2 separate regions of the Homo sapiens genome follow, and region 1 is linked to region 2. A link means that fine-mapping ties the variant in region 2 to the expression of a gene that starts in the linked region. Tissue or cell type: nasal epithelium. Region 2 holds a variant in brackets; the other region holds the start of a gene. All regions are shown on one strand. Distances are between the middles of the regions.

What was found. PIP is the estimated chance that this variant, and not a neighbour inherited with it, causes the effect.
Region 1: RERG starts here. The variant in region 2 is fine-mapped to the expression of RERG in nasal epithelium (TOPMed, PIP 0.95). The same link has a PIP of 0.9 or more in prefrontal cortex.

The regions. Positions count from the first base shown.
Region 1 is chr12:15,218,625-15,224,345 of GRCh38, forward strand. RERG (RAS like estrogen regulated growth inhibitor) reads right to left here and starts at 2,793. Exons shown (of 5, transcript NM_032918.3): 1 at 2,571-2,793. LOC124902886 reads left to right here and starts at 2,044. Exons shown (of 1, transcript XM_047429948.1): 1 at 2,044-3,354. The coding sequence starts at 2,621. The coding sequence ends at 2,938.
Region 2 is chr12:15,148,327-15,154,047 of GRCh38, forward strand. All of the region lies in intron 2 of RERG (RAS like estrogen regulated growth inhibitor), which reads right to left. It overlaps RERG-AS1 (RERG antisense RNA 1), which reads left to right and starts at 3,597. Exons shown (of 3, transcript NR_046559.1): 1 at 3,597-3,744. The variant A/G (reference allele first, on the strand shown) is at 2,448.

The DNA of each region.
Region 1 (5,721 bases), 70 kb after region 2:
CTTCTACTCATTTGTCCTCATTTCTCTCTATGAAATAACTCAAAACAAGTCAACTTTTTCTTTCACTCAGAACCGTTCAAGGATCCTAGCATCTAGTAGGACCCTTTGCTCCATCCTAGGCTTCTTTTTTCTAGGAACATGAGGCCCAGCCTGTCCACTTGTTCTTCCCGGAATGTACACTCTCGTTTATGTTTTTTTGACCTTCACTCCCTTTTTCATCATGTGCATTGCCTCCTCAACATCTTAATCACTCTAAAAGCATGGTGTCCACTGCATTCCACTTTGAGATATGACCTGACAAACTGACCCGGTGTAAATTCCCTGAGATTTTCACTATCGTTAATCTGCCCACCATGGTTATACTGTAGCACAGCCAATCACATTAAGCCTCACATCTTTTACACGGACTGCAGACCCCCTCATTCCGAACATTTGCAATCAATGGCTTAAACCTAAATACAGCACAGCACTTTTACCCGTGTTAATCTTAATCACACCAGTCTGCATAATTCATTCCATTTTCAAGGCAGTAAAGATGTTTTAAACACAAATATGTTATCTAAATGTGTTAAATGTTCCTGCCAGATTTTTCCATCTATAAATTTTTACAAAGAGCTTCTTGAGAGAGAAATTAAAAAGTGAAAATCCGCCTGAAAAAGTATTTCTACAAAGACATTATCATGTAATTGTTTTCTTCCTTAGGTATTTAAGCTATCATCCTGTACCTAATAAGGTTTTGTATTTGCTGATTTTCAAAGTGCCAGAGCTTCCTCTGAAGGAAGGAAAAATCAACATTAACATTAGCTATTGTTTACTTCATCCTCAATAATGACAAAGTGTCTAAGTAATCATTATTAGCAAAAACCAGAAGCTTAAACATCTGCAATTTGTCCAGTCCCATATTTTTGGCTAAAGATAAAAAGATTTCCTTATTTGTCACTTTAGATGCATTCATTAAGAAAAGGCCCTATGTTTTTAAGGTTCAGGGCTTCATCACAGAAACATAATATGTGGAGATATATTAACTATTTAAATTATAAATGAGAAGAGGTGCTGGCAAGTATTTCTTTGAAACATTGAACACGCAAGTGTCTGCAGCTAGTATAAACAATAATTTTGTTTCATGCAAAACTGTTCATATACATGGATATAAAATGCAAGTAATTATCTGTCTGATTAATGTTTCATGAAAGTAGCCATCAAATGTGATTTTAAAAAAATGACAAGTCACATTTTTTAGTAACTCCCAAATGGCCCCAGAGGCATAGGAATTTCACATAAGAAAGAGAAATTGTGTGGGCTATTTTTTCCATTTATAACCTAATAAAGATACAGCTGGTTATTGTCAACCTAATTTTATGTTTAGAAAAATCACTTAAAGGAAGACACAAAACTGACAGGAGTTCTTCAACATTTTATTTCTCACATGAAAATGTGAAAAGTTACATTTGACAAGATAGAAAACAAAAATAAATATGTAAATTGTTGTAATAAGTAAACTGTTGCCAAGTTTCTGATGTTCCAAATAATTCATAATCTGAGAGCTTCCATACGTGGATCTAAGAAAATCCATTTGTCCTAATGTTCTGCTGAAATATTCTGAGTAGGGCTGAAATTTGCCATTCACTTTTTATGTGGATGGTGCTTATTAGGACAAAAACATCTCAGCTGCTATCACTCTAAAGGTAAAATCATACCTATTTAGTTTGAAGGTGTAGGTTTTTTTTTCCCTAAACATAAATTAAAGGAAAAAGGAAAAACGCTAGCTAAAATCCTGTATTATTAGTGATGCATTCATTGATTTATTCCACACTTTCACGCTATGCACATACAAATAAAAGTAGTTCCCTTCGAAGAGCTTACACTCTGTTAGACCTATGATATTTAGATAACTGTAACCTTATTTACTTACTTATTTAAAGAAAGTTTTCATTCCTAATAAATCATTCTCAAGGCTATATTTATCAAGGTTCATGCTTTCTACTTCCTCTTGGGGGTGGGGCAAGCAAGCGTCTTTATAAGGTAATCATGCTTGGAACTTCTGTTTGCATGCGCTCATCAAAATCAAGTGTAGCTATTTAGGGAAGCAAAGACCCTAGTCTAGGCCTGGAAATGAGATTCTCTTCTTTTTTGGCCTCCCCTTCTCTGGTTCTGAAATCAAGTTTTCCTGGTCTCATTACTAGGAATTCTTCCTCTTCTTATCACTACGCAGTACCCACAGCAAACCAGGATAATTGTATAAGCCCCTTGGCTATTTAATGTTGCTCTGAACTCAACAGGTATCTTGCAAGAATAAACAAATCCATTGTGGACTGCAAGTCACTTGCTTTCAGGCTAGGGAGAAAATGCAGCCTTAAGTCAAAAGGGCATTTTCCCTCTCAGCTAGGAGAGCCCTGTCAAGATAGGCTGCTGGTGTTCACATCTCCCTCGCAGCGAACCCCAAAGCCGCCCTGGGAGGAGAACCCGGTGACCAAGAGGACCGACTCAGAGGCCGAGCGCGCTCAGGGCTCGGAATGGGTCTGCAGGAAGTCGTCCCGAAAGAGCTGCCTGGACACGTGCGTGACACTCACCTGTTCACACTCTCCAGGCCAGGAGAGCTACGGTCCTCTGCAAGTTCGGAATGGGTCCCCCAAGATCGCGAAGCCCTCCCACACTGCGCAGCCCAGGCTTCAGGTTGCGTTTGCGAGTTGCTGGGCTGCGGTCGTGGGTGGGACTCGCCGCAGAAGCAAGTGCCAGTGGCCCGGCGGGGGTCTCCTCACTCGCGCTCGCTCCGACTAGCGGCGGAGGGACTGCGGCAGGACGCGAGCTGAGCCCGGCCAAGGCCGCTGCGCTCAGCGGCCAGGATGCTGCAGTGCGGCGCTTCGGCGCCCCCTACTGGGGGCAGGGGCAGGCTCCTCCCGCCGCGCTGCCTCCCAGGCTTGCGAGCTTGGGTCTTTAACGTGCTGCACCCAAGACGGGCTTCCCTTTTTCACTGGTTATTTCCAAGCCTCCAGGCTCCCACCGAAGGGCGGCTTTCCTCGGTCAAAACCTTGCCTAAGAAAGCATCACTACGTGGTGTTTTCTATTCCTTATTTCAAATGATCCTCGCAATATCTCTTTGAAGTATCTTTAATTATCTCCATGATACCCAAGAGGAAACTGAAGGAGAAGGTAACGCAAGGCTAGTAAATGGCTGGAATGAAATCCAGACTGGATTGGGAACTGAGAGATGCTAGGAAAAACAAACAAGGAATTCAATTGAAATTCTATTCATATATTTGAGAAAGTTCCAAAAGCTTCTCGTCCTCCTTACAGGATCAGCATTTATAGGATTTGCATTGGAGTCATACTCCATTATGCTCAGACCCTAACAAAGACAATTAATATGCGAGCTGTGCTGGACCTGCTTTCATATCCCTCATCTGATTTGATTTTTACACCCTCTCTTCATGTAAGAACTAGTATTATAATTACTAGCCTTTCACAGATGAGGAGGTGAGCTTCAGAGAGGCTAAATGATCTCCCAAAAACTGAAACATCTGAGCAAAGAAGCAGGAGGCACTTATGTTATTGTTTTTCCCTTATAAATCTGGGTATTCTTACCAAGATACCAAACGGCTTCCAGAAAACCAGTGTTATATAGAACAGACAGGGGCCTAGGGCAAACTGAACGATCTGTAGAATGTCATCAATGGGAAGGGAGGTAACCATGGAGGCAATTTCCAGAGTCCAGACTGACCTGGAAGGTCACTGCAGCCACGAGTGAATGGCTGAATGGAACAGCTAGATCTATGGCAAAAAGAGGAGTTGCCTAGCTGAGCAGGAGCTGCCCTGCTGGTTCTTTGAGAAAGCTCAAACATTGTATGGTTTATGAGTTTCCTGATCACTAATGTACCCCTCCCTCCACACCACATACATCTGGATTAGATGCCTCCCTCTGTATCTCACAGGACCCTGTGATCTTATCATTGTGTTTGTGTTGTACTCATTTCTGCCCCTTAGTCCTCTCCATTAATCTGTGAGCTCCCAGAAGCCAGGAATGTACCATGTGTGACTTCTGTATTCCCAGCATCATCCATACAGTGTGTATACCTACAGCCTGGCATATAGTAGGTAGTTAAAGAATACCTACTGAATTGAATGAATTAAGATAAAGAAGAAGTTGTGATAGGATATGTTTGAGCTTTTTTACATACTGGATTTAGGATAGACCATCCAGTAAGAAATTGAATGTATGGGGCTGCGACATTTAAGAAAGAGGCCTGGAAAAGAGAGAGACTTTGGTGTCTTAGCATGCAGAAGATCTTTGAAGTCTGGGATGGGATAATAATTACCCAGATTCATTATATAGAATCTTACAGAATTCCAATTACATGGAATCGTGTGGCATTAAGGTGTTCAGGTTTCACATGTTACCTTGTTTCCCCCATTAAATCTTATACTCAGGGCAAGATTTAATAAAAAAAAAAAAATCTGTGACCCTATATCTGTAAATATACTATTTACAGAGACTTGAGTTGGAATTCCCACTTTGCCACTCTTATTTAATAAGAGTTATTGACCAGCCTGGGCAACATGGGTAGAGACAGCGTCTCTACTAAAAATACAAAAAATTAGCCAGGCGTGGTGGCACGCATCTGTAATCCCAACACTTTGGGAGGCTGAGATGGGCGGATCACCTGAGGTCAGAAGTTCGAGACCAGCCTGGCCAACGTGGTGAAACCCCATCTCTACTAAAAATATAAAAATTAGCCAGGCGTTGTGGAAGGAGCCTGTAATCCCAGCTACTCCAGAGGCTGAGGCAAGAGAATCACTTGAACCCCAGAGGCGGTGGTTGTAACAAGCCAAGATCGTGCCATTGCACTCCAGCCTAGGTGACAAAAAGAGACTCTGTCTCAAGAAAAAAATAATAATAGTAAGTTTTCGAAGAGGGCCCAAGCCAGGTCCCATTTGTAGTAGTTCTTTTGGAACTTGCCTATGGAACCTGATTCTCTCCATTTTCCTGCTTAGCCCATATAACAACAGCATTCCTCCCTCAACTAGGGAGGCATTTGCATACACATCTGCAGTTCTTGATGTGCTGCTCTAAGATAGATGAAGTAGCTATCTTGGAGCCTGACTCCCACTGTGTTACATCTTCCGTATGTATCCTATATTCTGCGGGCTGCTTCCTTTGTCTCTAAAGCAGCAAAAAGAGGCACGCTCTCTTGTGCTGCCTGCCTCATGGATCAGTAAGAAGGGCAGAGGACACTTTGTACTTACGGTTCCATGACATATGTTTGCTGGGCAAGAATTCTCCTGGGGAAAGGGGAAGTCCTTGTCACATTCAAGTCTCTTAGCCTGGCCTTAGGCTTCAGCTAAAACCTCTAACACAAAACAAGTAGACGAAGTGTTGATATAACCACAAAGCATGTTAGAAACTGGAATTGTGTGTGTGTATGTCTGTGTAGCTGTTAATCATGTTTGTTATAAATAATTCAAACAGTAGAAAAATACAAAGATGTAGAAAATCATCCCCAGAATCACACTATCCAGAAATAATAACCATTGTTAACATAAGGGGACCATCATCATTCCAGATATTGTAGAAAACAGACATCCTGATGGACAGGTATGTGAAATGGCACAGATATGCTAAGTGTCATCATCCTGTAGATGCTATTTTTAATTTAAAAGTACACTTAATGAAGCAGAAGATAACAAAATTAAAGTGAACATTAAAGGCTGACCAAACTTTAGATA
Region 2 (5,721 bases):
GATTGGGAATGTTAATTGGAATAAAACAAGAAGGTGTGAATAAAGAAGGTGCGAATAAAGAAGGTAGAAATGCGGGGGGGAAATGACCTAAAAAACAAACAGCAAATGAAGGACCATGCCAGTGCTGGTCAGCTACAGTGAGCCTCCTGTTTCTGAAAGAACACAGAGATGAGTGTTGCAAGAATCAAACTTAAGACACTGGGAAAACATTTCTATCCATGTAAGCATAGGAAACTTTAAGTGTATTAATTATTAAGGAATACAAGTTATGTGCAGTGACTTGTTAAATAAGCCGCTGATACCAAGCAAGTGCAGAGACATTAAGGAGTCATGAAGTGAATGAGAAGAAGTCACTTTTATTACAACTACTAATTCCCCAGGAATTTGGAGATTTTTAAATACTCGTATATTCCAGCATCATTATTAACATGTCTATTTAGCACTGAAATTTTGGTCTGTACATGAACATCAATCATTTGGGCAATAGTTTCATTAAATTCATTTGCAGTCCTTTAACTCTGTTTTTTTTTTTTTTTTTTTTTTTTTTTTTTTTTTTTTTTTAGACAGAGTCTAGCTCTGTCACCCAGGCTGGACTGCAGTGGCGCCGTCTCGGCTCACTGCAACCTCCGCCTCCTGGGTTCATGCCATTCTCCTGCCTCAGCCTCCCGAGTAGCTGGGACTACAGGCGCCCGCCACCACGCCCGGCTAATTTTTTGTATTCTTTAGTAGAGACGGGGTTTCACTGTATTAGCAAGGATGGTCTCAATCTCCTGACCTCGTAATCCGCCCGCCTCGGTTTCCCAAAGTGCTGGGATTACAGGCGTGAGCCACCGCGCCCAGCCTGCAGTCCTTTAACTCTTAATGTTCAATATCTAATAGTGACTGAGAAAAACAGGGCTGTGTTTATTTGCTTATTTGTTCTTTCTGAAAAATCAAGACTTTTTCATCTATTTTTTATCACTTCATCTCAGGCTTTCCTTATATAGACTGAATTCTGATACTTAATTCTTAACATATTTTAAAATATTAATAGTAAAATGTATCTTTATATTTAAAGCCAAAAAAATGTATCCACATCTACTATGAACAAAGAAAACACCAGTGCTAGGCACTGGTGGGAGGGGAGGTGGATGATACATGAAAGCACAAGACAGAATTAGTACTCAAGGGCTTTGCAGTTCTGATGGGGAGAAAGATGTTCATTAACAATACTAGTTCATGGCAGAATGTGACCTGTGTTGCATACTGGAGGGGAAAAGTGCTACTTCTATAGAAGAGGGTGGAGACTTTAATGAAAGGAATTCCACTTCCAGTAATTTCTCTCAAAAGATCTATTGGACAAATGCAGAAAGTTACATGCACATAGATGATTCTTAGGTTAATATTTAGCCTATTTGTACTAAATAGCCAACAGCATGATTATGCCAACATGCCAATTCACATGGATACTGGATTTAGAAATGGTAGAAAATAAAATACTTTAAAGAAAAGTTGTTTCTGTTCATAAATGGTGTCTAGGACCAGCCTACAGATCTCCACCATCCTCGTTTCGTGACTATGATAGACATTACTAATCGATCATGTCATACTTTCCTTTGCGCTCTATGGCCTTAGAATCCTTCCTTCCTGAGAGTTACAACCCACTGAGATGAATGCATTTGCATATGCAGGGTATAGACAGTGGTTCTCCTACTATGCTACTTTGGTCTGTGAACCCCCCTGAAGGCTACTGGGGGAAAGGACGGGGAGGGAGAGTAGGTACAAGGCCAAGACTGCTCACTTTTGGACCACAGCTATGATATTAGAAGGGAGCTTAGTAGTCACCTTTGGATGGGATCTGGTAAAGATGCAGTGATGATATCTCAGGAGTTTTTCATTTGGGAATATTTACACAGTGTAAACTGTGTAATATGCATTTTTATATATTAAATATATTTTATACTTCAATACAAATTAAACAAACAAGCAAAATAATAGCTAACCTATCAGAGCCAAAACAAGATGGCGAGCTGAAACTTTATAGACCGTCAAATGTAGGCTCATATCTAGGCTCAACATTGTAACTTGCCGTGTGATTTGGGCAAGTCATTGGAGCTCTCTGTTTCATTTTCATTACCTGAAACAGGGATAAAGAATATCTAACTCATAGGATTGTTATGAGGAGTAAATGGCGTAATAAGGAACTTAGTATCATGTCTAATATATCATCGTAATATGTTAACAATGATAACTAACATTTATGTTCCCAGATCTGTTCTAGGGACTTAGTTTTCTCCAAAAAACCTTGTGTGGCAGGGCCTTTATTTTACAAAGAAGGAGACTGAAGCAGAGACTTTAATTACTCATCCAAGATCTCTCAGCTATTAGGTGGAAAAGCCAGAATTGGAATTCAAACAGGCTGCATATTAATCGCTGCATTCTCTTGTGTAATGAGGACCTGTTAAACA[A/G]CAGTTATTACTATTACAAGAATAAATCCTGGCAGAGATGTGGGAGGTTATAGGGAAGAATTGAGTGTGGGCTGAACTGCTGTTCACCAGGAGGCAAAGGGCAACTCTAGGGTTAGGCTTTGAAATTCTGTGCTAAATAAATGGCTGCTATTATTATTATGCAATCTCCATACCTAATTTGAGACAGAAAATGAAAGTACATAATACATGCAATATTGTTATTGTACTTTATAAATACAGAAAACAGCTTGTGGAAACTTAATGCCATGCTCCCCTTTGGTCCACTACAGCCTGTTTCTAAAATCTACCCCAGGGGAGCATTCTACCTCCGTAGGCTACATCCAAAATCAGTCTTGGTTTTGTTGTGACTATGGGTGATTTTTTTCCTCTGTATTTTCTACGTTTTCTATAATGAACACACTTAATCTTAGAGTGGAAAACTGACTTTGAAAATAAAACAAAGCAAAAACAAAAACCAATCTCGGTAAGTCAATAAGAACCACATGTCTTTTAAATGGAAAACATGCCTATTTCTCCTTTGTTTCTTAGAAGCAGCTTGCCAGATACACAGTCCACAGCTTTGAACCATTTACATAAACATACCCAAGCCAAGTGTTTCCACGCAACAGCCAAATTGCACCCATATTAGCAATTTAATGACTTTGAAAGTAATAAGTGGTAGAAACTGATATTCACTTTGCTGGAATTCACCTTAGATATTCCTTACAAACCACAATCCAGTGGCATTTGTTGTAGATTGTAGATGTAGATATTCAAGAAACTTTGAAAGAAAACACTATTCATCTTGAGATGGGGGGAAAAATGCTAAGTGGTAACAAAAGGTAGAAATCTTTCAGGTGAAATGTAATGTCCAGGAACTGAATGGTAGTGGATCATAGTAAATCATCCACCAGAGGGCACTGCCAGAATATACAAAGTTTTCTTGGAAAAGATTGGACACCCCCTAACTCTAAGCAAAGAGAACTAATATGGTTAGGTTAACAGAATTCCACTTTTATTATGCTTCCTTTTCCTTTATAAATCAGGTCAGTCTTTTCCTCCTGATGAAGGAATTCATGAACTGCATGCTACCCTTACTGTTATGACTTCTAAAACTGCTGCAACCATTTGATTGGAAAAGTATTTTACAATAAATGCTGCGTTCCATGTGCTAAGTACTGAAGTTATTACCATGACAACAAGACCACCTTCTTGCCTACAGTTCGGAGATTAATAAAGGGCTCCTGAGATAACCACAAGGCACATGAAATAACCCAGGAACTATAAATTGCAAAAGGTAAATGCTGTTTTGTTTTGCACTTAAAGTACCATTGCTGTTCAGTGAAGGGAATATTGCCCACAGATGTTTTGGAAAGCCATCTGAGGAAGGCACAGAAGGTTGTACAAATAGAATAGGCAGAAAGGAAAGCAGAACACAGCATTAGCAAAGTCATAGGAGTCAAAATTTCATTGCTAAGGAAAACTAGTGCTTTTCATTTCATATTTCTGGCTGTCCTACTGACTTGGAATGCTTCAAATGCACCAATTCACCTGCCTTAGATATGGACTGATACTTCAGTCCCATCTGCTGTAATAGGTGAGCTTTTCATATTTTCTGAAGCTATTATCCATAGTGTTTCCCCTCTAATTTCAAAAGCCTAGAGAGAAACAATATGGAAAAAACTCTTGTTTTGGACAGAGAAGGCTCTGAAGCAAGCCACCTCCTAGAGATGGAGAGCTTCATTTTGTCCTGCCTGAGCCAAGATAGGACACAGTAGGAGTTTGCTGCAAGAACACAGAACACATCAGGTTTTCATGTAGCAGTGCCCTAAGAAGGAAACTGGACAAGGATAACTTGAATTGAGGAAACCAGTCCAGCTGGAGCACCACCCTGTGGTTTCGCATGGACTAGGAATAGAAATTTGCTCTGAAGAAATGTATTTTTAAAAGTTAACCTTCACATGGTATTTGAAGTTTCATAGAACTTTTTTGGATTGGAACCAGATCTAGCATGCATGTTCTTAGGTATTAAAGCCTAATATTATTATATTACTCTTTGAAAAAAATGAATTCTTTCATCATAGTAATTTTCTTAAAATATAACACTGCTTTTTACTTATATTAAATTCTCTACTGTTTCTGATGTTATGCTACTTAGGAAAATGCCATTTTCTTGTTAAATTAATATGTGCAGACAAGTATTTACTTACCACACATGAACATGAGCCCCTTATAAGTCATCACTCCTAATATTTATGGTCTAAGAATGAGGTAGTTCGGGTGAGTCACATATTTACACTTAGCAGAGAGATTAAGAAAAAAATTCGCACCACAATTTCCCTTAAGTAATGGAAAAAATGTGACTTGTTACACATTTGTTTTCTGGGTCAGTGTTTTTCCAGCTTTTCCATAGAGTCTTAAGGTCATCCAAGGTTTCTTTAGGTTTTCCTAAAAGAAAGAACTGGGGAGTTGTGATGGGTGCTTGATTTTAAATGTGATAACAATTATCTGCGACTTTTAGAGAACACAGCTAACCATTGTGAAGATTACTGTTCTGGATAGTGAAAAATATGAACCAGCAGTATAGGCTTTGAATGTTTGAAATTGATGATCTTAAATTTCTTAAATAACAGGGCCCTAGACATGCACTTTGCTCACAAAAGAGATCTTTTACCCCAGTCTTTAGAAATTTGCTTAAAGTGGGAGAGTCTAGTATTTATAAATAAAAGGAAAGCAGTAAGATTCAGAAAAATACCATTGAGATTTATAAGGAACTAGAGAACCATAGTTCCTGGAAAATCCAGGAGTAATTGAATAGCTTTTATAATATAAAGAAAAAGAATATTCACGGTGCATTACTTTTGGCAGCCTATCATCTAAATATGGCACCCAGAATAAATGCATTGACTGAAGGGAAATTGTATGATTTGCATAAATTTTACCAATGGCTATAAATTATCCTCTCTGGTGATTTTTCAAGATAGATAGTGTTATGGGTTGAATTGTGTCCCCTCAAAGGACACTGAAGTCCTAATCTTAGTATCTGTGAATGTGACCTTATTTAAAAATAAGATCTTTGTTGATGATCAAGCTAAGATGATTTCATTGGAGTAAGCCCTAAGTGATTAAATATGACTATGTTCTTATGAAATGGGGAAATTTGGACACAGAGACAGACACACACAGAGAGATGATATGGAAACATAAGGAGAACACCATCTGCAAGCCAAGGACGGCCTGAGGTTACCAGAAGCTAGGACAGAGGCAGGGAACA